Regions from separate parts of the Homo sapiens genome. Here regions 1, 2 and 3 are each linked to region 4. The links come from fine-mapping of genetic effects on gene expression. A gene starts in region 4. Each other region holds a variant in brackets. All regions are shown on one strand. Distances are between the middles of the regions.

The links.
Region 1: its variant is fine-mapped to the expression of ARMC3 in whole blood (INTERVAL, PIP 0.99).
Region 2: its variant is fine-mapped to the expression of ARMC3 in whole blood (INTERVAL, PIP above 0.99).
Region 3: its variant is fine-mapped to the expression of ARMC3 in whole blood (TOPMed, PIP above 0.99). The same link has a PIP of 0.9 or more in blood mononuclear cells.

Annotation. Positions count from the first base shown.
Region 1 is chr10:22,863,982-22,872,088 of GRCh38, forward strand. LOC105376451 (a long non-coding RNA gene) reads left to right here. Exons shown (of 3, transcript XR_930749.3): 2 at 428-535; 3 at 4,108-4,243. Among named protein-coding and RNA genes, the nearest start is that of ARMC3, 60 kb to the right of the region's middle. The variant A/G (reference allele first, on the strand shown) is at 3,368.
Region 2 is chr10:22,880,109-22,888,215 of GRCh38, forward strand. No RefSeq gene overlaps it. Among named protein-coding and RNA genes, the nearest start is that of ARMC3, 44 kb to the right of the region's middle. The variant C/T (reference allele first, on the strand shown) is at 4,283.
Region 3 is chr10:22,851,080-22,859,186 of GRCh38, forward strand. It overlaps LOC105376451 (a long non-coding RNA gene), which reads left to right and starts at 3,021. Exons shown (of 3, transcript XR_930749.3): 1 at 3,021-3,139. The variant C/G (reference allele first, on the strand shown) is at 4,208.
Region 4 is chr10:22,923,228-22,931,334 of GRCh38, forward strand. ARMC3 (armadillo repeat containing 3) reads left to right here and starts at 4,826. Exons shown (of 19, transcript NM_173081.5): 1 at 4,826-4,879.

The DNA.
Region 1 (8,107 bases), 59 kb before region 4:
AAATGAACTTGTTCACTTGCCCCAGCACATCCTAAATCTGTAGGCACTCAAACCCCTTCAGTCAAGAACTGCATAAACTTTCATGGATTCCTGTATGTATTTGCTTCAGAGCAGATACTGTGAGGTGGGATAGTTGGGGAAGGTGCATTCCTGTTCCCCTCTGACAATGATGGGCAGGGGCAACAAGTCCGTCCTGTCTATGGGCAGCAAAGCCCATCTACATGAGAGAAATGAAGTAACTGGAGAAATGAAAAGATCTTTCCTACAAATTTCCTCTCCCCAGGACAGAGCTAGAGCTACATATGATGAGTCCAAAAGAAGCCATCCATTCATAGGTGTCACATACATGTAAAAGTACAATATGTATATAAATATACACATTTACATATACAGATCTATTGTAAGAAATTGACTTACATGATTACAGAGGCAAAGAAGTTCCAAGATCTGTACTTGGCAAGCTGGAGACCAGGGAGAGCTGATGGCATAGTCTTGGTGCAAGTCCAAAGGCCTGAGAACCAGGAGAGCTGATAGAGTAAGTTCCAGTCTGAAAGCCAGCTGGCTTGAAACTCAAGAAGAGCTGATGTTTCAGTTTGAGTCTGAAGGCGAGAAAAAGACCCATGTTCCAACTCAAGCAGTCAGGCAGGAGGAGCCCTCTCTTACTCAGCCTCTTTGTTTTGTTCAGTCTTCAATTGATTGGATGGGGTCCACTCGCATTAGGGAGGATATACTGCTTTGCTAGGTCTACCAATTCAAATGCTAATCTCATCTGGAAACACGTTCACAGACACACCCAGAATAATGTTTGACCAAATGTCTGGGCACCCGGTGGCCCAGTCAAGTTGATACATAAAATTAACCTAATGTATGCTGAGGGGCTAGCTAACAAATGCCTGGAACAGATGCCTTTTGGGTTGATACAAGAAAAATAGACTTTAAATTCTCAACCTAAGAGGCTCTAAAAATTAACTAGTTAGCATTATGTAACTATAGGTATTTCATCAGTCTATCTGCTGTTTCCTGTAATCAGAGAAATTTCCAAAGAATTCAGATGGGCTTTACAAGTAGAAAAGGAGGAATCCTATGATTCACATACTGGAAATATCTTGATATAAGTATGGTAGCTCATCTTCTAGATTAGGTTGTTGATGTGTTTTGTGAGATGTAAATGAACTAGAATTCCCTTCTGATATCACCAGTACCATCTTCCTTTACCATTCAGATCAAATATTAAACTCGGGTTGATGACTTTCATGACTTCCAGAAAATGTACCATTCATTTTCATTCCTCCTCTCTCCCTGATTTGACAGTCTCATTTCTTTCCTCCATCTCTTATCTTCCCCAGTCTTTTTGTTCTGAATATTATAGTTAAGTTGAATATCAACTAAAATTTGTTAGACAGTGTTGCTACTTTCAAAGAATGTTTGTCCTATAAATGTTGAATCTTTGAGTATTTCCAATGACTGTTGAATGTAAAATGGTTAGTGTTACATATAAAAAGAACAAAAATTTTGAGAGGCCAAGGCAGGAGGATCACTTGAGGCCAGGAGTATGAGACCAGCCTGGGCAATATAACAAGACCCTGTCTCTACAAAATAAAAAAAAAAAAAGAAATTAGTCAGGAATAGTCCTAACTACTCAGGAGACTGAGGCGAGAGAAATGCTTATGCCCAGGAGTTCGAGGTTGCAGTAAGCTAAGATTGTACCACTGCACTCCAGCCTGGGCGACAGAGTGAGACCTTGTCTCTAAAAAAGCAAAAACAAAAACAAAATGCTCTCACTGCAAACCCCTTGCAGTGAAATAATTCATTTTAGAGTGAGGATTAGAATCTCTGCAAATGGGAGAATGCTTAAAGGCAATTGCTGTGATTCGTCCTTCACTCTTGCTTACTGTGCCCAATTTTCTTAAACTTCCATTGATAGATGTTTCCCCGGTGACTGTCATGGAAGAAATGGTAATTTTCCTAAGCCTACTTAAGCACTTCTAGTCTTGACTTGAGTCTAACACTTTTGGGACAAATTTTGATTTTTCTAGAAATAGTATGTAACTAGTTTCAAGGTTTGCCAATAACTGGGATATACATCAAATACTGTGTATCTATGATTATGCTTTTGTTAGTGTGCTATTACATAATTAGCAAATTTTAGATTCCTATAATAGTCAAAAGAGCGCATATTTTAATAATGTGCCTATGATATGGCCCACAGAATATCATAATTCTTAAAGAGATACTTGCCTTTGTGCTCTTTCAAAATTTATACAGTGAAAAGTCAGCTCCTCTGGCTTCTCAGCTGTAAACCACTTAACAAATCCAGAGTGAATTTTAAAAATGCCCACCCTTCTTTCTGAAGAGCCTGCTATAGTGCCAGATTCTGCTGATGGAAGAATGTTTTTCACAGCTTGAATACAAATTACGGAAAAGTACACAACAGAAAGCAGAAATATTAGACAAAGGGGAAGACTCTAAACCCAAGAAAGGTTCTTTCCCTTTGCCGTGGTGGTTCTGCACTCATGACTGACTGAATTGAAACTTTTCAGATTTGCCCATTATTTTTATTTTTTTATTTTTATCTTTTTTAGAGATAGCGTCTTGCTCTGTCACCCAGGCTGGAATGCAGTGGCGTAATCATAGCCCACCGTAACCTTGAACTTCTGGGCTCAAGTGATCCCCTCGCCTTAGCCTCCCAAGTAGCTAGGACTACTCCTGGCTAATTTTTATTTTGCAAAGATAGAGTCTTACTGTGTTGCCCAGGCTGGTCTCGAACTCCTGAGCTTAAGTGATCTTCCTGTCTTGACCTCCCAAAGTACTGGGATTACAGGCATGAGCTACTGTGCCTGGCTAGATTTGTTCATTTTAGAAGTGTTACTTTTACTATTTTCAACTTGAAAACATTTTACACTATTCACAGTTAATTAAAAAAAAAAGTCACGTATAATGTGTATATATTTAAGCCAACTTTACAAATCAAGATTGGTAATTATTCTTTTTCCCCCTAGAATATAAAATATTCTGTGATATTGCTATAGGAATTGAAAATATCCATCAGGTGTGAGTGTGTGAGGCCAGGATCTACAGTAACTAACTTCACACCCAGTCTAGTGGGAGAGTTAGAGACATTAGGACCATGCTGTTCAAAAGAAGATAATGAGAGCCACATACATAATTTCTAATTTCCTAGCAGCCACATTAACAAAGGCAAAAAGAAACAATTGAAATTTAAAAAATGTATTTGATTTAACCCAATATATCTGTACTATATGGTTTCAACATATAATCTATATAAAAATTATTAATAAAATATTTTACATTTGTTCATACTCTGTCTTTAAAATCTAGTGTGCATGTTATGCTTATAGCACACCTC[A/G]GTTTGGATTAGCCACATCTCAAGTACTCAATAGCTACATGTGGTTGGTGGGTACCATATTGGATAACACCAATTGGATTGGACACAATCTGCTTCTTAGACTTTTGTTAGACAAATTAGATGATGGATTTTTTGTTTTGTTTTGTTTTGTTTTTTGAGACGGAGTCTTGCTCTGTCACCCAGGCTGGAGTACAGTAGCGTAATCTCAGCTCACTGTAACCTCTGCCTCCTAGGTTTAAGCCATTCTCCTGCCTCAGCCTCCTGAGTAGCTTGGACTACAGGCACCTGCCACCAAGCCCAGCTAATTTTTGTATTTTTAGTAGAGACGGGGTTTCACCATGTTGGCCAGACTGGTCTTGAACTCCCAACCTGAAGTGATCCACCCACCTCAGCCTCCCAAAGTGCTGGTATTACAGGTGTGAGCCACCGCGCCCAGCCAGATGATGGATTTTTAAAATGTGAACCTTTTACTGATGCATAAAAATATACAGAATAATGCATAAATAATAAGTGCATTTTGATGAGTTTTCACGAAGAACATAGCTGCTTAACTAGACCCCAGATCATGAGATGGAACATTAACAGAGGCTCCCTTGTGTTCCCATTACATTTTCTTTTGATATCACAAATATCAAGACCTTGCTTTTCTTGCCTCCCACTCTATAAAGCAGACTCACTTATACATTAGGTTGGTGTGAAAGTAATTGGTGCACATTGAAAGCCAGTGCTTTGGTTTTCAGGGCAGTTCCAATCCTGGTCATGAATCTGCATTATGGATCTTCACAAATTGAAGAAACCCTCAAGGGGCCACGCCGGGAAAGGCAAGTTGAAAGAGAAGGACATCCCTGACTACTTAATAAACTGGATGTGTGTGTATTTCTCTTGGCTCTCATTTAGTTTCGAATATAGGGTGATGTAATTCAAATACCTTCTGAATCTGCTTTCTTTCTCCATGTGGTCATTAAATATGAGTGGAGTAAGAATGAGAAAATAACTCTCAGTTATATCAACTTCTATGGGATGTTGCAAAGCTGTGATCATTTTTGATCAAGCAAAGTTTTCTCTTGGCCAAAGAAGAACTGGGTATACAACATACACTCTATAAGTACAGTGCATGGCTAGGAGGGTGAGAGATGGAGCAAACATCCAAGCATTTCATATATTTTTCTAAAAAAAAATTTTGGAAAAGAAACTCAGGTTTATAGATGTAGCGTCTTTCCAGAGCTGCAGAAAGGGTGAGAGGCCGGCATGCGGTGGCTCATGCCTGTAATCCCAGCACTTTGGGAGGCACTTTGGTGGATCACCTGAGGTCAGGAGTTCGAGACCAGCCTGGCCAACATGGTGAAACGCTGTCTCTACTAAAAATACAAAATTAGCTGGGTGTGGTGGTGGGCATCTGTAATCCCAGCCATTTGGGAGGCTGAGGCAGGAGAATCACTTGAACCTAGGAGGCATAAGTTGCAGTGAGCTGAGATCCTGCCATTGCACTCCAGCCTGGGCAAAAAGAGTGAAACATTTCAAAAAAAAAAAAAAAAGGGTGAGAGGGAGTTAAGCATGAATGCAGGAAAGCACACTTTGCCAAGCTAGAGATGAAATCGCACACCTCCCTGCCATTCCCTTCAGAAGCCTTCTCCTAGGAGGGGAGAGTCCATGACTTCAAGGCCCTTCCTCCGCAGAGAGCTGTGCAACAGCAGCACAGATCAGCATGGCTCCCCCAGGAAGCAGAATGCCTCGTTCCTGCTGTGACTGCAATGGCTCCCTCTTTCTCTCTCTTTCTGCCCTGTCCTTCCTTGTGGGGTGCCTTTCTTTGAGGGCAAAAGTGTCTTGGATATTTTCAAGCACCCGAAAGATGAACGACATCACAAGGGTGGGTCTGCCACATAGCTATTTAAGTGGTTAAAGATAGAAAATGATATTGGCTAAAAAAAACCCAGTCTCTGCATAGCTTAGTGACTGTGATGGTTAAAATTGAGTGTCAACTTGATTGGATTGAAGGATGCAAAGTATTGGTCTTGGGAGTGGCTATGAGGGTGTCTCCAAAGGAGATTAACATTTGAGTCAGTGGACTGGGAGAGGCAGACCCACTCTCAGTCTGGGTGGGTACCATTTAATCACCTGCCAGCACAGCTAGGATAAAGCAGGCAGAAGAATATGGAAGGACTTGACTTGCTGAGTCTTCTGGCCTCCATCTTTCTCCTGTGCTGGATGCTTCCCGGCTTCGAACATCAGACTCCAAGTTCATCAGCTTCTGGACTCTTGGACTTACACCAGTGGTTTGCCAGGGGCTCTCGGGCCTTCGGCCACAGACTGAAGGTTGCACTGTCAGCGTTCCTACTTCTGAGGTTTTGGGACTTGGACTGGCTTCCCTGCTCCTCATCTTGCAGATGGCTTATTGTGGGACTTCACCTTGTGATCGCATGAGTCAATTCTCCTAATAAACTCCCCTTCATATATACATCTATCCTATTAGTTCTGTCCCTCTAGAGAACCCTAATACAGTGACTATTTCATCACACCTTATTCTGAAGAGAGCCACATCCTTTGGTGTTGAGGGTAGGCTGAGTATTCCCTGTTCCATCATTTGTTCTATCTCACAGGATAGGATTGAACCCCTGACATATCTGAACGCCATGACAAACTGTGATATTATGCAGTCTCACAGCTCAGCAGGGAAATGGGCTGGCAACACTAGATGAGTCAAGGGATTAAAGCTTTCCAATTCCCATATTTTAGTTAAAAAAAAAACAGTAACTATATAAAAAATTAAAAAACAAAAACAAACTGAAAAGAAAATCTGACATATGGAAAAGTGTATCATAGGGATAGACCATGGGCAATTGCACATAGGTAGTTCATAGAGCTGGCTGATTATCACAATCATTCATTGTATTTTGAAGTCTTGCATCGCAATGAGTAGTTTTTTGTTTTTTTTTTTATTTAATTGGGCATGGCTTTCCTTGGTGAGTATGTTCGCATTGATTTTCTTTTTTTTTTTTTTGAGAGGGAGTCTCGCTCACCTGGGCTGGAGTACAGTGGCACTATCTCGGCTCACTGCAAACTCCACCTCCCAGGTTCACACCATTCTCCTGCCTCAGCCTCCCGAGTAGCTGGGACTACAGGCGCCCGCTATCATGCCTGGCTAATTTTTTGTATTTTTAGTAGAGACGGGGTTTCACCATGTTAGCCAGGATGGTCTTGATCTCCTGACCTCATGATCCGCCTGCCTTGGCCTCCCAAAGTGCTGGGATTACAGGCGTGAGCCACCACGCCTGGCCCACGTTGATTTTCTATGTGGTGTTGCTCTTTTTGAAATTCTTCCATTATTTGATATACATGGAAATGAGCATTCCCTATTCCGCCTAACATAATGCAACCATCTTGTGACTGTGATTTTCAGGGTTTTATCTAATTAATTAATTTTTTGGAGACAGGATCTTGCTCTGTTACCCAGGCAGGAGTGCAGTAGCGTGATTACAGTTCACTCCACTTCTACCTCCCAGCCTCAAGCCATCCTCCCTCCTTCACCCTCCAGAGTAGCTGGAACTGCAGGCACGTACCACCACACCTGGCTATTTTTGTATTTTTTTGTAGAGGTGGGGTTTATGTGGCCCAGGCTTGTCTCAAGCTCCTGGGCTCAAGCAATACTCCCACCTCAGCCTCCCAAAGTGCTGGGATTATAGGCATGAGCCATGGCGCCTGGACTTATTTTCAGGATTTTATATGTTAGAGAATTAATGTATACTTTAGGGATTTTGATCTTTTGGGATTTACACATTAAGCATTATGGCTTTTGGCATTGTGTCTTCCAGGATTATAATCCAAACCTGAAAAATACTTTGAAGTTTTACTTTCTCTGGGTCTTCCACCTACCTTCTGCCCAATGGTAGCCTTTACTCCCTGGTAACGCTCTAAAGTGTTGCTGAGTTTGAGCAAACGTGGTAGATAAAGTTGTACCAGAGCTTCTCTTGGTGCACATTTTCTGCCTATGTGAAATCACCCTCATAGAGTTAACAAGAATTGCATGCCAGGTTCTGGACAGAAATATAATACTTACAATTAAACATTCCTCAGACTGCACTCTGCCCCACTTTCTTGTAGCTGCTTAATAAACATAAATCTAGTGTGCATATCAGGCTTACAGCACACCTCAATTTGGACTAGCCACATCTCACTAGATACTGACCATTTGCGTTCTCACTGATACTAGATACTAAATTCTCATTGTTTCTATAGCTAGACTCTCTGACATTAGAATCCTAAGGATTTTGTTGCAGAATTGCTTAAGATGTTTTTCAGATCCTGAATTCCAGCAAAATGGGTGGTGCCAACCAGTTTGAAGAACCCCACAGAGGAACGGAATCAACATGAGAATACAGTTTCTTCATCTATCTTGTGACTTCATCCTACACTCTTCAACCTAACAACCATCTCTACACCTCAGCCCGCTACTTGTCCAAGCCTCTTAAAATCCCTATCCCTAGACTCCTCCGGGAGGCAGATTTGAGGTTTCCCCCCATCTCTTTCATTTGTCTGCCTTATGATTAAACCTCTTTCTCTGCTGCAACCTAGTGTCTTAGTGTATTTGCTTGCCATGGGAGGACTAAGCTCTGAGTTTTTTCATTTTGCCCAAATTCTTGTCTAAGAGGTCTGGGGAGTCATGCCCTACAAACCGTAAAATCTCTTCAGATGGGTTTTATTTAACCCTATATATTGTGATTTACTTTCCCATCTGACTCTGGA
Region 2 (8,107 bases), 43 kb before region 4:
ATGCCTCCATTTTCATTTCTAACTGAGCTAATTTGAATCTTCTCTCTTCTTTTCTTAGTTAATCTAGTTAATGGTCTACTGACTTTATCTTTTTATATAAACGACTTTTTATTTCATTGATCTTTTGTATTTTTGTTTCAATTTCATTTAGTTCTCCTCTGACCTTATTTTTTTTCTTCTTATAGCTTTGGGTTTGTTCTTGTTTCTCTGTTTACTTGAGATGTAATGTTAGGTTGTCAATTTGTGATTTTTCAGACTTTTTAATGTAGGTATTTAGTGCTGTTAGCTTTCCTCACAGCACTGCTTTATGCTGTATCTCAGAAGTTTTGATAACTTGTGTCACCATTATCATTCATTTTGAATAACTTTAAAATTTCCATCTTGATTTCATTGTTAACCCAAAAGTCATCTGGGAGCAGATTGACTAATTTCCATGTATTTGCATAATTTTGAGTTTTCCTTTTGGAGTTTGATTTCTGGTTTTTTACTACTGTGGTCTGAGAAGGCACTTGATATGATTTTGATTTTTAAAAATTTATTGAGACAAGCCATGATTAAGATGGCTGAATAGGAACAGCTCTGGTCTGCAGCTCCCAACAAGATCAACACAGAAGATGGGTGATTTCTGCACTTCCGATTGAGGTACCTGGTTCATCTCACTGGGACTGGCTGGACAGTTGGTGCAGCCCACAGAGGGTGAGCCAAAGCAGGGCAGGGTGTCACCTTACCCCGGAAGTGCAAGGGGTCAGGGGATTTCTTTCCTAGCCAAGGGAAGCCGTGACAGACTGTACCTGGGAAAACAGTACACCTCTGCCCAAATACTGTGCTTTCCTCATGGTCTTAGCAACCAGAAGACCAGGAGATACCCTCCCATGCCTGGCTTGGCAGGTCCCATGCCCAGGGGGCCTTGCTCACTGCTAGCACAGCAGTCTGAGATCAACCTGTGAGGCTGCAGCCTGGTGAGGGGAGGGGCGTCCAACATTGCTGAGACTTGAGTAGGTAAACAAAGCAGCTGGGAAGCTCAAACTGGGTGGAGCCCACCACAGCTCAGCAAGGCCTACTGCCTCTATAGACCTCACCTCCGTGGCCAAGGCATAGCTGAACAAAAGGCAGCAGACAACTTCCGCAGACTTAAACATCCCTGTCTGACAGCTCTGAAGACAGCAGTAGTTCTCCCAGCATAGTATTTGAGCTCTGAGAACAGACAGACTGCCTCCTCAAGTGGGTCCCTGACCTCTGTGTAGTTTGGCTGGGAGACACCTCCCAGTAGGGGTCGACAGACACCTCATAAAGGTGGGTGCCCGTCTGGGACGAAGCTTCCAGAGGAAGTATCAGGCAGCAATATTTGCCGTTCTGCAATATTTGCTCTTCTGCAGCCTCCGCTGGTGATACCCAGGCAAAAAGGGTCTGGAGAGGACCTCAAGCAAACTCTAACAGACATGCAGCTGAGGGGCCCAACTGTTAGAAGGAAAACTAACAAACAGAAAGGAATACCATCAACATCAACATAAAGGACATCCACACCAAAACCCCATCTGTAGGTCACCAACTTCAAAGACCAAAGGTAGATAAAACCAGAAAGATCAGGAGAAACCAGAGCAGAAAAGCTGAAAATTCCAGAAACCAGAGTGCCTCTTCTCCTCCAAAGGATTGCAGCTGCTTGCCAGCAACAGAACAAAATTGGATGGAGAATGACTTTGACAAGTTGACAGAAGTAGGCTTCAGAAGGTCATTAATAACAAACTTCTCTGAGCTAAAGGAGCATGTTCTAACCCATTGAAAGGAAGCTAAAAACCTTGAAAAAAGGTTAGATGAATGGCTAACTAGAATAAATAGTGTAGACAAGACCTTAAATGACCGGATGTAGCTGAAAACCATGGCACGACAACTTTGTGACGCATGCACAAGCTTCAATAGTCAATTCAATTAAGTGAAGGAAAGGATATCAGTGACTGAAGATTAAATTAATGAAATAAAGTGAGAAGACAAGATTAGAGAAAAAGAGTAAAAAGAAATGAACAAAGCCTCCAAGAAATATGGGACTCTGTGAAAAGACCAAATCTACATTTGATTGGTGTACCTGAAAGTGATGGGGAGAATGGAATCAAGTTAGAAAACACGCTTCAGGATATTATCCAGGAGAACTTCCCCAACATAGCAAGGCAGGCCAACATTCATATTCAAGAAATACAGAGAATGCCACAAAAATACTCCTCGAGAAGAGCAACTCCAAGACACATAATTGTCAGATTCACCAAAGTTGAAATGAAGGAAAAAATGTTAAGGGCAGACAGAGAAAAAGGTCGGGTTACCCACAAAGGGAAGCCCATCAGACGAACAGCAGATCTCTCAACAGAAACCCTACAAGCCAAAAGAGAGTGGGGGCCAATATTCAACACTCTTAAAGAAAAGAATTTCCAACCCAGAATTTCATATCCAGCCAAACTAACCTTCATAAGTGAAGGAGAAATAAAATTCTTTACAGACAAGCAAATGCTGAGAGATTCTGTCACCACCAGGCCTGCCCTAAAAGAGCTCCTGAAGGAAGCACTAAACATGGAAAGGAATAACCGGTACCAGCCACTGCAAAAACTGTAAATTGTAAAGCCACTGCCAAATTGTAAAGACCATCGAGGCTAGGAAGAAACTGCATCAATTAACAGGCAAAATAACCAGCTAACATCATAATGACAGGCTCAAATTCACACATAACAATATTAACCTTAAATGTAAATGGGCTAAATGCCCCAATTAAAAGACACAGAATGGCAAATTGGATAAAGAGTCAAGACCCGTCAGTGTGCTATATTCAGGAGACCCATCTCAAGTGCAATAATTAATAGCCTACCAACCAAAAAAAGTCCAGGACCAGATGGATTCACAGCCAAATTCTACCAGAGGTACAAAGAGGAGCTGGTACCATTTCTTCTGAAACTATTCCAATCAACAGAAAAAGAGGAAATCCTTCTTAATTCATTTTATGAGGCCAGTATCATTTTGATATCAAAACCTGGCAGAGACACAACAAAAAAAAGAAAAAGAGAATTTTAGATCAATATCCCTGATGAACATCAATGCCAAAATCCTCAATAAAATACTGGCAAACCAAATCCAGCAGCACAACAAAAGTCTTATCCACCACGATCAAGTGGGCTTCATCCCTGGGATGCAAGACTGGTTCAACATATGCAAATCAATAAATGTAATCCATCATATAAACAGTACCAAAGACAAAAACCACATGATTATCTCAATAGATGCAGAAAAGACCTTTGACAAAATTCAACAGCCTTCATGCTAAAAACTCTCAATAAATTAGGTATTGATGGGAAGTATCTCAAAATAATAACAGCTATTTATGACAAACCCGCAGCCAATATCATACTGAATGGGCAAAAACTGGAAGCATTCCCTTTGAAAACTGGCACAAGACAGGGATGCCCTCTCTCACCACTCCTATTCAACATAGTGTTGGAAGTTCTGGCCAGGGCAATCAGGCAGGAGAAAGAAATAAAGGGTATTCAATGAGGAAAAGAGGAAGTCAAATTGTCCCTGTTTGCAGATGACATGATTGTATATCTAAAAAACCTCATTGTCTCAGCCCAAAATCTCCTTAAGCTGATAAGCAACTTCAGCAAAGTCTCAGGATACAAAATCAATGTGCAAAAATCGCAACCATTCCTATACACCAATAACAGACAAACAGAGAGCCAAATCATGAGTGAACTCCCATTCACAATTGCTTCAAAGAGAATAAAATACCTAGGAATCCAACTTACAAGGGATGTGACGGACCTCTTCAAGGAGAACTACAAACCACTGCTCAATGAAATAAGACAGAACACAAACAAATGGAAGAACATTCCATGCTCATGGATAGGAAGAATCAATATCATGAAACTGGCCATACTGCCCAAGGTAATTTATAGATTCAATGCCATCCCCATCGAGCTACCAATGACTTTCTTCACAGAATTGGAAAAAACTACTTTAAAGTTCATATGGAACCAAAAAAGAGCCTGCATGGCCAAGACATTCCTAAGCTAAAGGAATAAAGCTGGAGACATCAAACTACCTGTCTTTAAACTGCACTACAAGGCAACAGTAACCAAAGGAGCATGGTACTGGTACCAAAACAGAGATACAGACCAATGGAACAGAACAGAGGCCTCACAGATAACACCACACATCTACAACTATCTGATCTTTGACAAACCTGATAAAAACAAGAAATGGGGAAAGGATTCCCTATTTAATAAATAGTGCTGGGAAAACTGGCTAG[C/T]CATATGTAGAAAGCTGAAACTGGATCCCTTCCTTTCACTTTATACAAAAATCAACTCAAGATGAATTAAAGTCTTAAATGTAAGTCCTAAAACCATAAAAACCCTAGAAAAAACGCTAGGCAATACAATTGAGGACATAGGCATGGACAAAGACTTCATGACTAAAACACCAAAAGCAATGGCAACAAAACCCCAAATTGACAAATGGGATCTCATTAAACTAAAGAGCTTCTGCACAACAAAAGAAACTACCATCAGAATGAACAGGCAACCTACAGAATGGGAGAAAATTTTTGCAATCTACCCATATGACAAAGGGCTAATATCCAGAATCTACAATGAACTCCAACAAATTTACAAGAAAAAATCAAACAACCCCATTAAGAACCATTAAAAAGTGGGCAAAGGATATGGACAGACACTTCTCAAAAGAAGACATTTATGCAGCCAACAGACACGTGAAAAAATGTTCATCCTCACTGGTCATCAGAGAAATGCAAATCAAAACCACAATGAGATACCATCTCACACCAGTTAGAATGGTGATCATTAAAAAGTCAGGAAACAACAGATGCTAGGGAGGATGTGGAGAAAAAGGAACACTTTTACACTGTTGGGAGTGTAAATTAAAATGCTTTTACACTGTTGGTGGGAGTGTAAACTAGTTCAACCATTGTGGAAGACAGTGTGGCGATTCCTCAAGGATCTAGAACTAGAAATACCATTTTTCCCAACCATCCCATTACTGGGTATATACCCAAAGGATTATAAATCATGCTACTATAAAGACACATGCACACATATGTTTATTGTGACAGTATTCACAATAGCACAGACTTGGAACCAACCCAAATGTCCATCAATGATAGACTGGATTAAGAAAATGTGGCACATATACACCATGGAATATTATGCAGCCATAAAAAAGGATGAGTTCATATCCTTTACAGGGACATGGATGAAGCTGGAAACCATCATTCTCAACAAACTATCACAAGGACAGAAAACTAAACACTGCATGTTCTCACTCATAGGTGGGAGTTGAACAGTGAGAACACGTGGACACAGGGTGGGGAACATCACACACCGGGGCCTCTCGGGGGTAGGGGGCTGGGGGAGGGATCGTATTGGGAGAAATGCCTAGTGTAAATGATGAGTTGATGGGTACAGCAAACCAACATGGCACATGTATACCTACATAACAAACCTGCACATTGTGCACATGTACCCTAGAACTTAAATAAAAAGATTTAAAAAAATTTGGTGGGAGCCAAGATGGCAGAATAGGAACAGCTCCAGTCTACAGCTCCCAGTGTGAACAACGCAGAAGACGAATGATTTCTGCATTTCCAACTGAGGTACAGGGTGCATCTCACTGGGGATTGTTGGACAGGGGGTGCAGGACAATGGGTGCAGTGCACCGAGCCTGAGCCAAAGCAGGGTGAGGCATCACCTCACCAGGGAAGCGCAAGAGGTTGGGGAATTCCCTTTCCTAGCCAAGGAAAGGGGTGATGGATGGCACCTGGAAAGTCGGGTCACTCCCACCCTAACACTGCACTTTTACGACAGTCTTAGCAAACAGCACACCAGGAGATTATATCCCATGCATGGCTTGGAGTGTCCTATGCCTACGGAGCCTTGCTCATTACTAGCACAGCAGTCTGAGATCGAACTGCAAGGTGGCAGCAAGACTGGAAGAGGGGTGCCCACCATTGCCAAGGCTTGAGTAGGTAAACAAAGCGGCCAGGAAGCGCAAACTGGGTGGAGCCCACCGCAGCTCAAGGAGGCGTGCCTGCCTCTGTAGACTCCACCACTGGGGGCAGGGCATAGCCAAACAAAAGGCAGCAGAAACCTCTGCAGACTTAAATGTCCCTGTCTCACAGCTTTGAAGAGAGTAGTGGTTCTCCCAGCACACAGCTTGAGATCTGAGAATGGACAAACTACCTCCTCAAGTGGGTCCCTGACCCCCGAGTAGCCTAACTGGGAGGCACCCCCGAGTAGGGGCAGACTGACACCTCACACGGCCGGGTACTCTTCTAAGACAAAACTTCCAGAGGAACAATCAGGCAGCAACATTTGCTGTTCACCAGTATCTGCTGCTCTGCAGCCTCCGCTGCTGATACACAGGAAAACAGGGTCTGGTGTGGACCTCCAGCAAACTCCAACAGACCTGCAGCTGAGGGTCCTGAATGTTAGAAGGAAAACTAACAAACAGAAAGGACATCGACACCAAAACCCCATCTGTACGTCACCATCATCAAAGACCAAAGGTAGATAAAACCACAAAGATGGGGAAAAAACAGAGAAGAAAAACTGGAAACTCTAAAAATCAGAGCGCCTCTCCTCCTCCAAAGGAACGCAGCTCCTCACCAGCAATGGAACAAAGCTGGATGGAGAATGACTTTAACAAGTTGAGAGAAGGCTTCAGACAATCAAATTACTCCAAGCTAAAGGAGGAAGTTCGAACCATCACAAAGAAGTTAAAAACCTGGAAAAAGATTAGATGAATGGCTAACTAGAATAACCAATGCAGAGAAGTCCTTAAAGGACCTGATGGAGCTGAAAACCATGGCAGGAGAACTATGTGATGAATGCACAAGCCTTAGTAGTGGATTTGATCAACTGGAAGAAAGGGTGTCAGTCATGGAAGATCAAATGAATGAAATGAAGTGAGAAGAGAAGTTTAGAGAAAAAAGAATGAAAAGAAACAAACAAAGCCTCCAAAAAACATGAGATTATGTGAAAAGACCAAATCTACATCTGATTAGTGTACCTGAAAGTGATAGGGAGAATGGAACCAAGTTGGAAAACATTCTGCAGGATATTATCCAGGAGAACTTCCCCAATCTAGCAAGGCAGGCCAACATTCAAATTCACAAAATACAGAGACTGCCACAAAGATACTCCTTGAGAAGAGCAGCTCCAAGACACATAATTGTCAGATTCACCAAAGTTGAAATGAAGGAAAAAATGTTAAGAGCAGCCAGAAAGGTCGCGTTATCCACAAAGGGAAGCCCATCAGACTAACAGCGGATCTCTCGGCAGAAACTCTACAAGCCAGAAGAGAGTGGGGGCCAATATTCAACATTCTTAAAGAATTTTCAACCCAGAATTTCATATCCAGCCAAACTAACCTTCATAAGTGAAGGAGAAATAAAATCCTTTACAGACAAACAAATGCTGAGAGATTTTGTCACCACCAGACTTGCCCTAAAAAGAGCTCCTGAAGGAAGCACTAAACATGGAAAGGAACAACTGGTACCAGCCACTGCAAAAACATGTTAAATTGTAAAGACCATCGAGGCTAGGAAGAAACTGCATCAATTAACGGGCAAAATAACCAGCTAACATCATAATGACAGGCTCAAATTCACACATAACAATATTAACCTTAAATGTAAATGGGCTAAATGCTCCAATTAAAAGACACAGACTGGCAAATTGGATAAAGAGTCAAGAGTCAAGATCCCTCAGTGTGCTGTATTCAGGAAACCTATCTCACGTGCAGAGACACACATAGGCTCAAAATAAAGGGATGGAGGAAGATCTACCAAGCAAATAGAAAACAAAAAAAGGCAGGGGTTGCTATCCTAGTCTCTGATAAAAAACTTTAAACTAACAAAGATCAAAAGAGACAAAGAAAGCCATTACATAATGGTGAAGGGATCAATTCAACAAGAAGAGCTAACCATCCTAAATATATATGCACCCAATACAGGAGCACCCAGATTCATAAAGCAAGTCCTGAGTGACCTACAAAGAGACTTAGACTCCCACACAATAATAATGGGAGATTTTAACACCCCACTGTCAACATTAGACAG
Region 3 (8,107 bases), 72 kb before region 4:
CAGCAGCAGGCACCGCATGGCAGAATCCAGGATCCAACCAGATTGAGTGCGGTCATCACCTCATGGCAGGATCCAATCAGCTCATGCCTCCTGGCATCACCTCATTGTGAGATCCAATCAGATCACACCTCATTACCCTATGCTTATAAAACCTGCCTCAGCACCTAGCTCCAGGAGACAAACTTGAGCATTTCCTCCTGTCTCCTTGTGAGTTAAATGACAATAAAGCTTTTCTTTTCTCAAAAGCTGGTGCCATCATATTGGCCTCTGTGTGCATCAGGCAGCAAGCCCATTGATTGCGTGGCAACAATTTGACAATCAGAGCCACAAGAGAAGTCTTTGCTAGAAAACTGACATTTCCAAATAGAGGGAACAACACGAGACAGGTCCTGTGGCATGAAGAAGCATGACCTAAACGGCCACCAAGGGCATCTATCTCAGGAAATAGCAGGATAAAGAATTTTCTCTTTATTCTTAGAGCAATGGAAGCTGTTGAATAGTTTTAGCAGAAGAGCTGCGTTCTCAGAATTATGTTTCTAAAAGATCACTCTGGCTTCTGAGTGGAGGAGAAGGGTAAAGTATGGTTACAGGATGAGTAGTGTGGTGGTCTAAGCTGTGGCAGGAAGAAGCAACTGACATTATACAGGCTGGGACTGATGGTTGCCTGGGTTAGTGTGGAGATGGATTTGAGAGGTATTTAGGAGGTAAAATGAGCAGGACAAGGTGTTAGAATCAATAGTGGGTGAGAGAGACAGGGAGGTTATGGATGATGCCTAGATACCTGGCTTGTAGAACAGGAAAGATGGTAGTATCTTGTGCTGAAATAAGAGAGGTAGAAGAAGAGCATGGATTGGAAGGTGGGAAGATGCGTGATTTAGGTAGGAACTTTTGCTGTGCCTTTGTGATGTCTGCATGGAGATGACAGGTTGACAGGTGGACAGATGGGTCGGAGGCGCCGATGGAATGTCTGGTCTAGAGATATGCATTTGTGAGTCATCTGTGCAAGTTTGTCATTGCTAAGAATGCCTAAGAAAAGCACGTGGAGTGAGGAAAAGTTCTGGCATAACATGGTGGATATTTAATGGCCAGGTTTGTACAAAGGAAATGGGGTAGCCAGAGAGATGAGGGCAAGACAAAAAAGTCCTGCACCACCAGAGCCTGGCAAAGAGTGTTCTGAACAATCCCAGAGTCCTTCTGTTACAGCTTCAATGTTCTTTGTGTTGTAGATGGCAAAGTTTCTGCTGAGTTTGAGGAAGAAGGGGCAGATGCGTGTGTTTGTGTGTGCATGTGGTGTGAGAGTGGCTGTCACCAAAGGAGGGGAGAAGCTCTGTAGAAGTTTTGATGGAAAGTAGGAGAGTGAGTTAATCAAAATATGTAGTAAGAGGGTCCATCTGAGATTCATTTTTTTTTTTTTTTTTGAGACAGGGTCTCACTCTGTTGCCCAGGCTGGAGTGCAGTAGTGCAATCTGGGCTCACTGCAACTAATGCCTCCCAAGTTCAAGCGATTCTCCTGCCTCAGCCTCCTGAGTAGCTGGGATTACAGGCATGCTGCACCAGCATGCCCATCTAATTTTTGTATTTTTAATAGAGACAGGGTTTCACCATGTTGGCCAGGCTGGTCTCAAACTCCTGACCTCAAGTGATCAGCCCACCTCAGCCTCTCAAAGTTCTGGGATTACAGGCATAAGCCACCGCACTCGGCCCTGAGATTCATTTTTATGCATTTACAATAAAGCCAGTCTGCTCCATTGCGTGCCTTTCTTCAGAAGAGTTCAGCTGCTGGGGGTTGGAATGCAAATAGCTGGATTCATTAGGGGTGAGAGTTTGCCAGAAGAGGGAAACAAACAAAAAAAGCTCAAAGGGCAAGGGAATATAGAGTATTGGCAAAAGGGCTATCAACTTGCTGAACCCTTGGCATCTGCCAGATGAGGAGGATGTGCAGACGGGACAAGGTCAAGGCACTGAGAGACTGAGGATGGAGCTGCAAGCCTGAAATCCTGATGGGGCTGAGGAATGGCCTCAGTGGAAGGAGCTGAGTCAGCCAGGGCAAGGGGAAGTAGTGATGCTCAGAGGACATTTGCTTCAGTGACTCTGCAAGTGGGGGACTGGGGAGTGACAGGAAGACCCAATGTGTGTGCACTAGGATGGATGATTTGAGTGGAGTGGAAGAGCTATTGCAGATGAGAACTTGAGGAATCAGAGGCCATTTGGTACAGCGGAACGCCATGTGTTTGTTGAATTTATTGGGCAGGATGGTGGGACTTTGAGTCCACATGCTAAGACTTTGACAAATGGCTGGGAAGGGAGTGACCAGGAATTGGCTAGAAGAAAATAACAGGAAGGAGTGGTTGAGCTGAAAACCACGAAGTCCAAAAAAGCAAGAATTTTTGCAAGAGGGAACAATAGTAGTGGATGCAAGTGGAACAAGGAGCAAAGACGATGGCAGCCCACCTCCATAATAGGGTGCATGTGAGAGAGAAAGGCATTCCCGGGCAATTGGAAGGAGTGTCTTCTGAGAAGAGACAGCTTTCGGCTGACGCAAGATGCATGAAGGAAGCTCAGGAAGAGCAGAGGAGGTGGGAGAGTTTCTCTGATGGCAGAGGGGAAGGGGTTGGGAGGCAACTCGGTGCCTAGAAGTGCAGCATTCTTGTTACAAACACAGACAGGAGAATATGGTAGTCCCCTCTTATCCTCATGAGATGTGTTCCAAGACCCCCATTGGATGCCTGAAACCATGGATGGTACCAGATCCTATAGATATTGTTTTTTCCTATACCTACATACCTATGATACAGTTTAATTGATAAAGTAGGCACAGTAAGAGATTAATAACAGTAACTCATAATAAGATAGAATGATTCTAAAAATATACTGCAGTAAAAGTTGTGGGAATGTGGTCTCTCTCTCCAAATATTTTACTGTTCTGTGCTCACCCTTCTTGTGATGATGTGGGATACCACAATGCCTTTGTGATGAGATGCAGTGAGGTAAATGATACAGACATTGTGACGTAGGGTTGGGCTACTATTGACTTTCTGACGATTAGGAGGACCATCTGCTTCAGGTGAACCTGGATCATCGAACCATAATTGATGGCAGTGACTGAATGTCAGGAGCAGATGCTATTGATGACTAATGGGTGGGTAGTACAATGTGGATCCACTGGACAAAGGGATGATTCATGTCCCAGGTGGGATGGGGCGGGACAATTCAAGATTTTATCACCCTTCTCAGAATGCTACCCAGTTTAAAACTTATAATTTGTTTCTTTCTGGAATTTTCTGTTTAATATTTTTGGACTGTGGTTGACCTCGGGTAACTGAAACCACAAAAAGTAAAGCTGTAGATAAGGGAGGACACTATAACAAACTGTAGACCAGGAAGAAGAAAGATGCCTGAAAAATAATAATGGAATGAAGAAAAATAAATCGTTAGGCAGTAATCCCTACCAATATAAAGTCAAATCAGACCAAGAAGATCAGGCCCTCCAGGAGGCCTCTGACCCCTAAGCAAATGGCTTTCAATTTAGAGCAGAGTTTGTTCAAACTGGGGTTTGAACTCTATTTTTAGACAATTCTCTTAACATGTAACCCCAAATATTTATATTATAGCTAAAAAGATTGTACCCTGGTGAAAAAAATAGCTGAATTTAAATACACATATATACATACATACACACATATTTACACACATACACAATCTTGCCAATTAAAGATGCCAATTTAATCAACTCTTGGCTTTCTCTTCATAATGAACAATCTCGAGCCCTTACTTTTTTGCAGAAGTCCCATTTTCTAATCCTGGTTGACTTTAGGGATAGAATGTTCTCCAAGTTCTCCATGCCCCTTAATTCTAGAACTCAGGAATGGACACCCTGCTCCTAGAAAAGTTTGACTAGTACCATGTATAATGGGAGGGTGATCTCATGGTTCCTCTGGGGACTTGGTTTTACATCCTGGCACTGTTCAGTCTTTAAAAAGCTGCTGTTATGACTGACTCCAGCTTATCTATTTTCATTGCTGGCTCGTTTTAAGACATCCTTCCCTGTAGCCAGTCACATCTTATCTTCTATTTGTATACTTCACTTCCCTCTCCTGGAGGGACTCCTACCCTGCATTTATCTTCAGCAAACTTTAAAAAGCATCCTGACCACTGTTCTAATTTAGTAGGGTTATTTTAAACTTTGCTCTTCACCAGCGGGCTGAGG[C/G]TGGTCTTCCCACTCCTCCATTGAAGCAGTGACTAATGTGCTCTGAGTTTCCTTCATGCCAACGCTGTGTTTGGGGATGTCTGTTTGCAAACATTTCAGCCTGAATTTTTCTCTGCTACTCCTGCGGCCTCCCTGTGCTGGGAGCACTTCTGTGGAGGTCAGGCCTTGGTCAGTGTCGATCCTTGTTCCTTTTGGCCTTTATCAGTTAAGAGAATCAGCTGGGTGCAGTGGCTCACACCTATAATCCCAGCACTTTGGGAGGCCAAGGTGGCTGATTCACTTCAGGTCAGGAGTTCAAGACCAGCCTGGCCAACATAGTGAACCCTCGTCCGTACTAAAAATACAAAAATTAGCTGGGCATGGTGGTGTGTGCCTATAGTCCCAACTACTTGGGAGGCTGAGGCAGGAAAATTGCTTGAACCCAGGAGGCAGAGGTTGCAGTGAGCTGAGATCATGCCACTGCACTCCAGCCTGGGCAACAGAGGAAAAAAAAAAAGAGAATAAATTCCCTAATATTTCAAACCTTAGGTCAAACGTCTGTAGATGTTAATGTTGAGGAGGACTATTTCTAAATTAACACACAGACAACAAGAACTTAATCTTTTAGATCCAAAATCAGCACCCGTACTATTATTATTTTTTTGGTTCTTTTATATATTATATATCCCAGAGACTATGTCTGTTTTGTACTGCAAGAGCCGGTGAAATGTCTATCCTTTTTTTTTTTTTTAAATAGACAGGACCTTGTTCTGTTGCCCAGGTTGGAGTGCAGTGGAATGATCACAGGTCACTGCTGCCTTGAACTCCTTGGCCCAGGTGATCCTCCCGCCTCAGCCTCCCAAACAGCTGGGACTGCAGGCATGTGCTGCCATGTCCAGCAAATTTTTAAATTTGGTGTCAAGACAGGGTCTCGCTATGTTGCCCAGGCTGGTCTTGAACTTGTGGCCTCCAGCAATTCTCCTGCCCCAGCCTTTGGAGTAGCTGGTACTACAGGAGCACCATTGCACCTGCCTGGTCGTAATTTTTAACTCAACCATTCCAGAGGGTAAGAGTATCATTAAATAGTGAAAGAAAGAATGAACGCAAAGTCAGAAAATGCAGGAAAGGATGCACAGAGGCAGCTACAAATCCTCCCTCAAGCCAGGACTAATCCCTTCCTGTCCAAGTTCCAATGGCTGATGCTTCATCTTTCTTCCTTTCCTCTGGTCTACATGATTTCTCTGTAAATGTTGTTACAAGCATTTGCATCTAAATCTTGTTTTCTCTATGAAACTACAAACCTGCAGAGGGAAGTTCCTGATGGTTGCTAATCTATCTCTATTTCACTCACAGTATTTTACCTAATGTCTTAAAACAGTCAGTGCTCAATAAAGATTGGTCACAGCGGCTCATGTGTGCCATCTCATCTCAATGCTTTGGGAGGCCAGGCAGGAGAATCGCCTGGGCCCAGGAGAGCCAGACCAGCTTGGGCAAGAGAGTAGGACATTGTTTTTTGAAGGAAAAAAAAAAAAAAAAAATGAGCCAAGCTTGGTACACACCTGTAGTCCCCACTGTGTGGGAGTCTGAGGTGGGAGGATCACTTGAGCCTAGGAGGAGGAGGCTGCAGTGAGCTATGATTGTGCCACTGAACTCCAGCCTGAGTAACAGAGTGAGACCTTGTCTCAAAAAAAAAAAAAAAAGAAAAGAAAAAATTTGGCTGGGTGCAGTGGCTCATGCCTGCAATGCCAGCACTTTGGGAAGGTGGGGTGGGCATATCATTTGAGGTCAGCAGTTTGAGGCCAGTCTGGCCAACATGGTGAAAACCCCCCTCTACTAAAAATACAGAAACTAGCTGGGCGTGGGGGCATACACTTGTAATCCTAGCTACTGGAGAGGCTGAGACAGAAGACTCGCTTGAAACCAGGAGGTGGAGGTTGCAGTGAGCTGAGATTGCACCACTGCACTCCAGCCTGGGCGACAGAGCCAGGCTCCATCTGAAAAAAAAAAAAAAAAAAAAAAAAAAGTTGACTGAGTGAACAATGAAAGAACACATGCAATTTAAGAAAGTTTAGTCCCAAGTTGATTTACTGTTTTGGCAAAGTAATTTAATTTTAATCGAATTCTCTTCTAATTCAAAACTTTAATTGATTTAAATAATAATAAGATGAAAAATAACCAATTTGAAATCTAGAGACACAGACTGGCAAATTGGATAAAGAGTCAAGACCCATCAGTGCGCTGTATTCAGGAATCCCATCTCACGTGCAGAGACACACATAGGCTCAAAATAAAGGGATGGAGGAAGATCTACCAAGCAAATGGAAAACAAAAAAAGGCAGGGGTTGCAATCCTAGTCTCTGATAAAACAGACTTTAAACCAACAAAGATCAAAAGAGGCAAAGAAGGCCATTACATAATGGTAAAGGGATCAATTCAACAAGAAGAGCTAACTATCCTAAATATATATGCACCCAATACAGGAGCACCCAGATTCATAAAGCAAGTCCTGAGTGACCTACAAAGAGACTTAGACTCCCACACAATAATAATGGTAGACTTTAACACCCCACTGTCAACATTAGACAGATCAACGAGACAGAAAGTTAACAAGGATATCCAGGAATTGAACTCAGCTCTGCACCAAGCGGACCTAATAGACATCTACAGAACTCTCCACCCCAAATCAACAGAATATACATTCTTTTCAGCACCACACCACACCTATTCCAAAATTGACCACATAGTTGGAAGTAAAGCACTCCTCAGCAAATGTAAAAGAACACAAATTATAACAAACTGTCTCTCAGACCACAGTGCAATCAAACTAGAACTCAGGACTAAGAAACTCACTCAAAACCACTCAACTACATGGAAACTGAACAACCTGCTCCTGAATGACTACTGGGTACATAACGAAATGAAGGCAGAAATAAAGATGTTCTTTGAAACCAATGAGAACAAAGACAAAACATACCAGAATCTCTGGGACACATTCAAAGCAGTGTGTAGAGGGAAATTTATAGCACTAAATGCCCACAAGAGAAAGCAGGAAAGATCAAAAATTGACACCCTAACGTCACAATTAAAAGAACTAGAGAAGCAAGAGCAAACACATTCAAAAGCTAGCAGAAGGCAAGAAATAACTAAGATCAGAGCAGAACTGAAGGAAATAAAGACACAAGAAACCCTACAAAAAATTAATGAATCCAGGAGCTGGTTTTTTGAAAAGATCAGCAAAATTGATAGACCGCTAGCAAGACTAATAAAGAAGAAAAGAGAGAAGAATCAAATAGATGCAATAAAAAATGATAAAGGGGATATCACCACCGATCCCACAGAAATACAAACTACCATCAGAGAATACTACAAACACCTCTACGCAAATAAACTAGAAAATCTAGAAGAAATGGATAAATTCCTCGACACATAGACTCTCCCAAGACTAAACCAGGAAGAAGTTGAATCTCTGAATAGACCAATAACAGGATCTGAAATTGAGGCAATAATTAATAGCCTGCCAACCAAAAAAAATCCAGGACCAGATGGATTCACAGCCGAATTCTACCAGAGGTATAAGGAGGAGCTGGTACCATTCCTTCTGAAACTATTCCAATCAATAGAAAAAGAGGGAATCCTCCCTAACTCATTTTATGAGGCCAGCATCATCCTGATACCAAAGCCTGGCAGCGACAGCACCAAAAAAGAGAATTTTAGACCAATATCCTTGATGAACACTGATGCAAAAATCCTCAATAAAATACTGGCAAACCGAATCCAGCAGCATATCAAAAAGCTTATCCACCATGATCAAGTTGGCTTCATCCTTGGGATGCAAGGCTGGTTCAACATACACAAATCAATAAATGTAATCCAGCATATAAACAGAACCAAAGACAAAAAACACATGATTATCTCAATAGA
Region 4 (8,107 bases):
CTTCAAGTGGTACTAGAACATTTGGACATTCATATGCAAAATTGTGATTCTCAAACCATCTCATACCATATACAGCAACTAATGTGACATGGATCATAGACCCAAATATAAGAATCAAAACTGGAAGACTTCTAAAACAAAACATAAAAGGAAGTCTATTTTCTTCCCTTTGGACTAGGCAAAGATTTCTTAGGCAGGGCAAAAGCAAAATGAAATAAAACAAAACAAGGCTAACCTTTGAAACAATGAATGAATTGGACTTCATCAAAACTGAAAGCTTCCGGTGTACAAAATATATTTTTAAGAAACAAAATGATAAGCCACACACTGTCAGAAAATATGTCCAAAATGTATATCTGACAAATGACCTGTATCCAGGATATACAGGGAACTCTTACAACTCAAGAACACAAACAACCCAATTAAAAGTAGGAGAAATATTTGAACAGGCATTTCACAAAAGAAGGTACAGAAATGGCTAATGATCACATAGAATGGGATTATCATCACTATACAGGGAACTCTTACAACTCAAGAACACAAACAACCCAATTAAAAGTAGGAAAAATATTTTAACAGGCATTTCACAAAAGAAGGTACAGAAATGGCTAGTGATCACATAGAATGGGATCATCATCACTAGTCATGAAGGAAATGCAAATTAAACCCAGAGGGAGATACCATTATACTCCCACTAAAATGGCTAAAATTAAAAGGACTGACAACATCAAGTGCTGTAGAACACATGAAGCAATGGCATCTCTCATTTTTGCTGGTGGGAATGCAAATACAGTATAGTTCCTTTGGAAAGCAATTTGGCAGGTTGTTATAACATTATACATACACATGACATAAGACCCAGAAATTCCACTCCTGGGTATTTTCCCAAGAAGAGAGAAACACGTTCACACAACACCCTGTATATTTAACCATATTTATTTATAACAGTCCCAAACTGGAAAGTACCAGAATGTCCATCAATCAGTAAATGGATGTTGTACATCTATGCAGTGCAATACCACTCAGCCATAAAGTGAGATAAGCTATGGATAAATGCAACACCATGGACAAATCTCCTAAACTATGCTAAATTAAAGAAGCCAGACACAAAATACAGCATATTGCATGGTTCTGTTTATAAGACATTCTAGAAAAGCCAAAATGATAGGGAGAGAAAGCAGAGCAGTTGTTCCCAGGGAAGTGAGTTAGAGGGAGAGATTTGACTTCAAAGGGGCATGAGGGAAATTTGGGATGATGGAGATGGTCTCTGAAACTTCCCTGGGGTGATGGTTACACAACTGCAAACCCTTGTCCAAACCCATCCAACTGTATATGTTAAAATAAACATGATCTCCCGCCCAAATTTGACATACTCAGCAAAGACTAAGTCTATAAAACAAGAATTAAAGCAGTAGTTTTAATTATTTCATAAAAACACATCACAAGGGAACATCACACACTGGGGCCTGTCATGGGGTGGGGGGAGGGGAGAGGGATAGCATTAGGAGATATACGTAATGTAAATGACGAGTTAATGGGTGCAGCACACCAACATGGCACATGTATACAAATGTAACAAACCTGCACATTGTGCAGAACTTAAAGTATAATAAAATAAAATAAAATAAATCACAACTTGTTATAACACTATAATTTCAGGATGGGCTGGTATGATATATTGGTGCAGAACATGGATATAAAAGTCAAGCTGACCTTAGTTCAAGTCCTGTCTTTACCATTTACTAGTAGAGTGACCTTCTGCTAATCACCCTGTACTTCATTCAGACCTCACAGGATTACGGTGTGGATTTAATTGTGCACTTTAACCACTTCATAATTGCCAGTCTCATAGTGAGTATTAAAAAAGCTTTAGTTACTTGAAGAACATTTAGAAACAGCCTAGGTGGGGAGACATACATGTCAACAAATACATTACAGTATCATGTGAAAATAACAAATAGAGCAAGTGTAAGGTACAGCTATAGCAACGAATGAGAAATGCTTCCCTCTGTCTGAAGAAGCTAATAAAGACTTTTTGGAGGAAATGATGACTAAGTTAAAATTTGAAAGATGAATAAGTGGTTTTCAGGCTGATTAGGGGAGTGAAGGGCTCAAAATGTCATGGTGTACTTGGAGAATGCTGAGCAGTTTGCTATATTTTTGAACAATGACAGAAGCTATTGTAGTAGGAAGCAGTCAGTCAGAACAAGAAAGATCTTGAGTGTCAATTTAAGAATCTTGTTGCATTTCATCATTTGTGTGTTAGAGCTATTGGAGCCAGCAAGGACACAGACAAATTAAATTTGCATCTTAGAATGATTACTTTGATTGTCTTGGAGAAGATGAATTGAAGCTAGGATGAGTCTAGAGGATGGAAGACCTGCCAGAAGGCTTGTTAGATGAATTCAGGTAAAGGACAGTGACTTTCTGTACTTGGGCTATGGGAATTGGAAGGTGAGAATAAATTCAAGAAACTTTTAGGGGAATCCAATAATTAACTGCATGAAAAGGAGAATAAGTCTAGGATGCCTGTCAGACTTGGTGGTCTGTTTGGGTAGAACACCTGTTGGTACCCCTAGATAAATGGAAAAACATGTCTATACTGGGAAAATGATGAGTTTAGGTGGGTAGTGTTGATGACTGAAGTGCCTGTGGGTATCCAGGTGGAACTGTGTAGCAAGTAGGATATATGGGTCTAGAGTTCAGTACCGGAGTCTGATGAGGAGCTACATATGTGCAATAGTTGAAGTCACAAATATAAATAAGATCACCTAGAAAAGCATATAGTGTGAAAAGAGAACAAGGGACAGATCCCTGGGAAATTTCAACATTTAAGATTCTGTAAAAAAACCACAATAGGGCATATATCCCTATAAAATCCCAGCTACTCAGGAGGCTGAGTCAGGAGGATTCCTTGAGGCCAGGAATTCAAGACAAGCCTGGGCAACATAGATAGACCCTGTTGTATAGAAAAGATCTTAAATGATGGTCATAAAAGAAAGTAGGAGGAAGATCAAGAGCAAGTAGTACCAAGGAAACCAAGAAAAGAGTTTCAAGAATGAGGTGTCATTGAGTATTATATACAGCAGCAATGTCAAGCAAGATGAGGGCTAAGAAGCATCCAATGGATATGGATAGTTTTAGTGCTGGGATGAAAACAGGTCACTATAGTCTGAAGAGTGAATAGGAAGTTAAAAATATGTAAGTATCTAATGCTGGCTACTTTTTTTGAAAAGTCATGACCAAGAAGAGAAAGAAAACAATAGGATAATAGTTAGAAGGAACAACAACATCAAAGGGATTTTATTTGTTTTTGCTTTTTAGATGAGGCATGGGAGGGGCTTCAACATAATTATATACCAACAGGAAAAAACGTGGAAGACAGGGAGAGGCTGAAAATACAGGTGTATATTATTCAAGGTCCAATCATATAACACTTGATGACGCTTATATTCTTGAAACTCCCTCCTTAGTTTCCTTGATGCTACTTGGTCTTAATCCTTTTCCTACTTTCATGACCATTACTTAAGATCTTTTCTATACAGAAGTCACACCGGATATTTGACCATGGAAAACTGAATACAAATAATTGTTATAAAGCTGTTTATCAGGCAATTTAAATGGTGAGAAGAGAACATAAGATATATAAAAGTAGCAATTATAAGAAGCATCTATCATTCTTAGGACTGGGAGACCAACAGGGGCCGGTAGGAGACGGAATTTGCAAAGTCTAAGAGGAGAGGGAGAGACTTTTTGCTAAAGGCAATCAAAAAATATTTTATGAAGATGGCATTTGAGCTGGGCTTAATTAAGTGGAAATGAGAGAATATTTCAGGTATTGCACATGACCTGGGAAATAGAAGCTACTTTATAAATATTTGTTGAAAAATGAAGTGATGAACAGATAAGCAAGAAAATCTAGAGAAAAGTGTGGAAAATTTCGGGAACAGTAAGTTTGGCTGGAGCTTGGATGGTGGAGATCGGTTGAAAATGTGGTTGCACAGATGGAGTAGAGATGGAGCAGACGGTCTTAAATTCCAGGCCAATGTGTTGAAAATTTATCTTAGGAAGCCGCTGACATTTGAGTAGGGAAGTGACAAGACTGGAACGATGATTTCTGGATGGCCGATTTGCCTGTGATACGTAGAAAGAACTGTAAGCAGAGAGCAACTGAATTTCTCAGCCAGAAGGCCAAAAAATGACGAGCTGGATTGAAGTGACAATAAGGATATGAGAAAGGGAACAAGCAGGAAACAAAATGTAAGCCGCCAAGAAGTGGCTGAAGTGATGACTGTGGTTGGGGGGCATGGGAGGAAGAAGGGAAATTGAAGCTCCTTCTGAGTCTAGGCAATTGGAAGAATGGCAGGAAGAGGAAAGAAAGAGGAAGAGAACGGGGCTTTGAAGGGCCATGAGAAGTTCTGTGGAAACGGATTGGACATCCTAGTGCAAAGAGATGTGGCAGTGCAGGTCTGCAGCTTAACGGAGCCTGGGCAGGAGGTGGCTGATGTGGGTTTCATCTGCATAGAGATTCCGGCTGACGCCTCTATTTGGAAGAATGCAATAGTATTTGCGTATTTGAACCCACAGCCAGTCCTTGGGCCAGAAACTGAGGCTGAACTGCCTCTTGATTTACAGCTTCCACCCCCAGTTTCCATTCTCCCCTAAAGCACTGGATTCAGGTAATCGCGGACGCACTTGGCTCCTCCCGCACTGGCCGCTGCCCTCGGCGGGACAATGGGCGCCCTAGCAGCCCCGAGCGTTCCCAGGGCGCAGGCGCGGCGCGGCGTGGCGTCGCCTAGCAACGAGGCACAACAAGGGACTGGGGGTTCGTCTGCTGGGTTTGCGGAGCAGCTAGCTACTCGGCGGGATCTCCCGGCAGGTAAAGGTAACCCCGTGGGGTGGGGAGGCCCAAGGCAGAGGCCTGAGGAAAACCTGGGAAAGGAGAAGGTGCCACGTGGGCGCAGACTGCTTGGGTCAGTGAGGCAACACCTTGCTGGGCGTTGTTAGTTTCTGCCTCGCGCCCGCAGGGTTAGACGGGGCTTGGGGTGGGTTTCGTAAGCATCCCGCCACCTCCCATTCAACAGGTGACAAAACTGAGGCCCGAGAGGGGATCTGAGGTGAGATCAAGTCAGATTCCGTTACTTGACTGTGAGCAACTCAGAAGTGGCCTCGATTTCTTGAGCCCTCCTCCTCTTTAAATCTTCTCAAAGCAGAACTCATTAGAAAATATTTAAAATCATAGGCTGAACGTTCACGAAGAACAAATACAAAGGACCAATCAACTCGTGAAAAAAAAAATGGCTCCAGTAGTCAAGAAGATGCATTTTTAGAGCAGAGTTGTTTGCATATCCAATGCCCTGAAGTTTTCACCCAGTTAATTTACTGCTAGAGATTTATCCTAAAGAAATAGTTGGGGATAATGGATGAAAATTTTATGTCCAAGGACGTTCTTTCAGCCCTGTCCATATTTCCAGAAAATTAGAAACAAATTTCAACAATCAGAGACTGGCTAGATAGCTAAGGGATTTTAAAATATTTGTAATGGCATGTTATGCTAATCCACTGGAGATTATTAAAGCAATGAAGGGAAACTGAGACTTCATGAATTTATTTGTTAATATAAGAATTTAGTAGGAATATGAACCCAGGAAGGGAAGGTGAAAGTAGGGGATAGAAGTTGAGGCAGGATGTTAAAATCACTTTAGAAAAACACACAAAGCCAGGTACGGTGGCTCACGCCTACAACCCCAGCACTTTGGGAGGCTGAGGCGGGTGGATCGCCTGAAGTCAGGAGTTCGAGACCAACCTGGTCAATGTGGGGAAACCTGTCTCTACTGAAAATACAAAAATTAGCCGAGCGTGGTGGCGGGTACCTGTAATCCCAGCTACTCAGGAGGCTGAGGCAGGAGAATCTCTTAAACCTGGGAGGTGGAGGTTGCAATGAGCCAAGATCAGGCCACTCTCCAGCCTGGGCAACAGAGTGAGACTCTGTCTCAAAAAAGAAAAAGAAAAAGAAAAAAAGAGAAGAGAGAGAGAGAGGGAGAGAGAGAGAGAGAAAGAGAGAGAGAAAGAGAAAGAAAAAGAAAAAGAAAGGAAAGGAAAGGAAAGGAAAGGAAAAGAAAAGAAATAGTATTGATCTCTCTGAGCTTATCTTTGGGTGATTTTTATTTTATTCGTTGTGCCCTTGTTTTCCAAATTCTCCACAGTGAAATGTATTACCCTTGTAAGGATCATCTCCATAGCTCATTGCCACCGACCTATGTCAGCTGTTCAGTCTCTCCTCCATTAACTATCATACCCAATATGGTGATAAAACACATAGGCTTTTTTTGGGGGAGGAGACAGAGTCTCGCTCTGTCACCCAGGCTGGAGTGCAATGGGGTGATCTCAGCTTATTGCAACCTCCGCCTCCCGGCCTCAAGCAATTCTCCTGCCTCAGCCTCCCCAGTAGCTGGGAATGCAGGCACATGCCACCGCCACTCCAGGCTAATTTTTGTATTTTTAGTAGAGACAGAGTTTTGCCATGTTGTCCAGGCTGGTCTTGAGCTCCTGACCTCAGGTGATCCACCCGCCTCAGCCTCCCAAAGTGCTGGGATTACAGGAGTGAGCCACCACGCCGGGCCATGATAAAACACATAGGCTTTTAACTTCATTCTTTAGCTTAGGAGACACTCTATCATTGCAATACTGTCTGTGTAAGCTCTTCTAACCTCTGCACTATGCAATTGCTCAAAAACACTATCCTGAAGTAGGAAAAATTAGTTCCTAAGTGAAAATCAGATGATTTAAAACAACTTTATGCAGGTGTAATTAAATTGCTTCCTGAATATTATTCATAAGCAATTATTTTATAAATCAAAGGCTGCTCTGTCTTGGAATTGGTTATAGAGTGCTATAAACTCTCTCTTTTTTTTTTCCTAGAGATTAATTGTAGGATAGATTCTCATTTGCCCAGAATAGTTTCTGCCTCTCTGCCTGAAATATTATAGGCACAAGGTCTAGGGCCTGTTCACTTTTCAAGCACCTAAGGAAGATGTTTGAGATTTGAAAAAAATGCTTATATTGGCTCTAAAATATGAAAAGAGAACTGAAAAATTAGTGTTAATTAAATGTTTTATTAATATAAATTTTTATTACATTTGAAAACAATTTTCTCATTTTACAAGAATTTCCAGGTGTATGTACTGATTGCTGAGTAATTTCAAATACAAATTTCAAAAGTTTTTATGATGCAAATGACATTTAATGGGCGATGCAGGCACATTTTAACATTTTAATATATTGGCTATTGTGTGAATAAGCTTGCCCAGGCCCTCCAAAGTCTTAAAAGTAGTGTGGTCTGAAGTTAGAGACCTAGAATAAATGCCTTTCAGAAGTATCTAGGAGTTTCTATGAAGACGTGGCTTTTTAATGTATGTGATAAATTCTGGTCAGTGTCTCTAATGCTAGGAGTTGCTTTTGACCCTTGACATGCAATTTGAGCTAACCCTGACACTGTAGATTCTCCCCAAGGATTTTCTACTTCCTAGGATTTCTACTGAGACTATGGTAATTTCCTTAAGGCTATGATATACCGTTTAAGATTGCTCCTACGATATACCGTTTAAGATGGCCCTGATGTCAAACATAATTCCACAAACTCTCACTGAAGAAAACTAGATAGATTTCCTGGGTTATTCTAATAGACATTAACATCTTGAAAAGTTTCTTTTTTTTTTTTGAGACAGTCTCACTCTGTTGCCCAGGCTGGAATGCAGTGGTGCGATCTCGGCTCACTGCAGCCTCCGCCTCCCGGGTTCAAGTGATTCTTGTGCCTCAGCCTCCTGAGTAGCTGGGACTACAAGGCACGTGCCACCACACCCGGCTAATTTTTGTATTTTTAGTAGAGACAGGATTTCACTGTGTTGGCCAGGATGGTCTTGAACTCCTGACCTCGTGATTCGCCCACCTCGGCCTCCCAAAGAGCTGGGATTACAGGCGTGAGCCACCTGCCCGGCCTGAAAAGTTCTTTGAACCCAGGCTGGTTACTCCTCTGTGGTATGTTAACTATGTATAAATTCCATTCCTTTCACTTTTTCCACACAGACATGGACATATGAGGACAAGT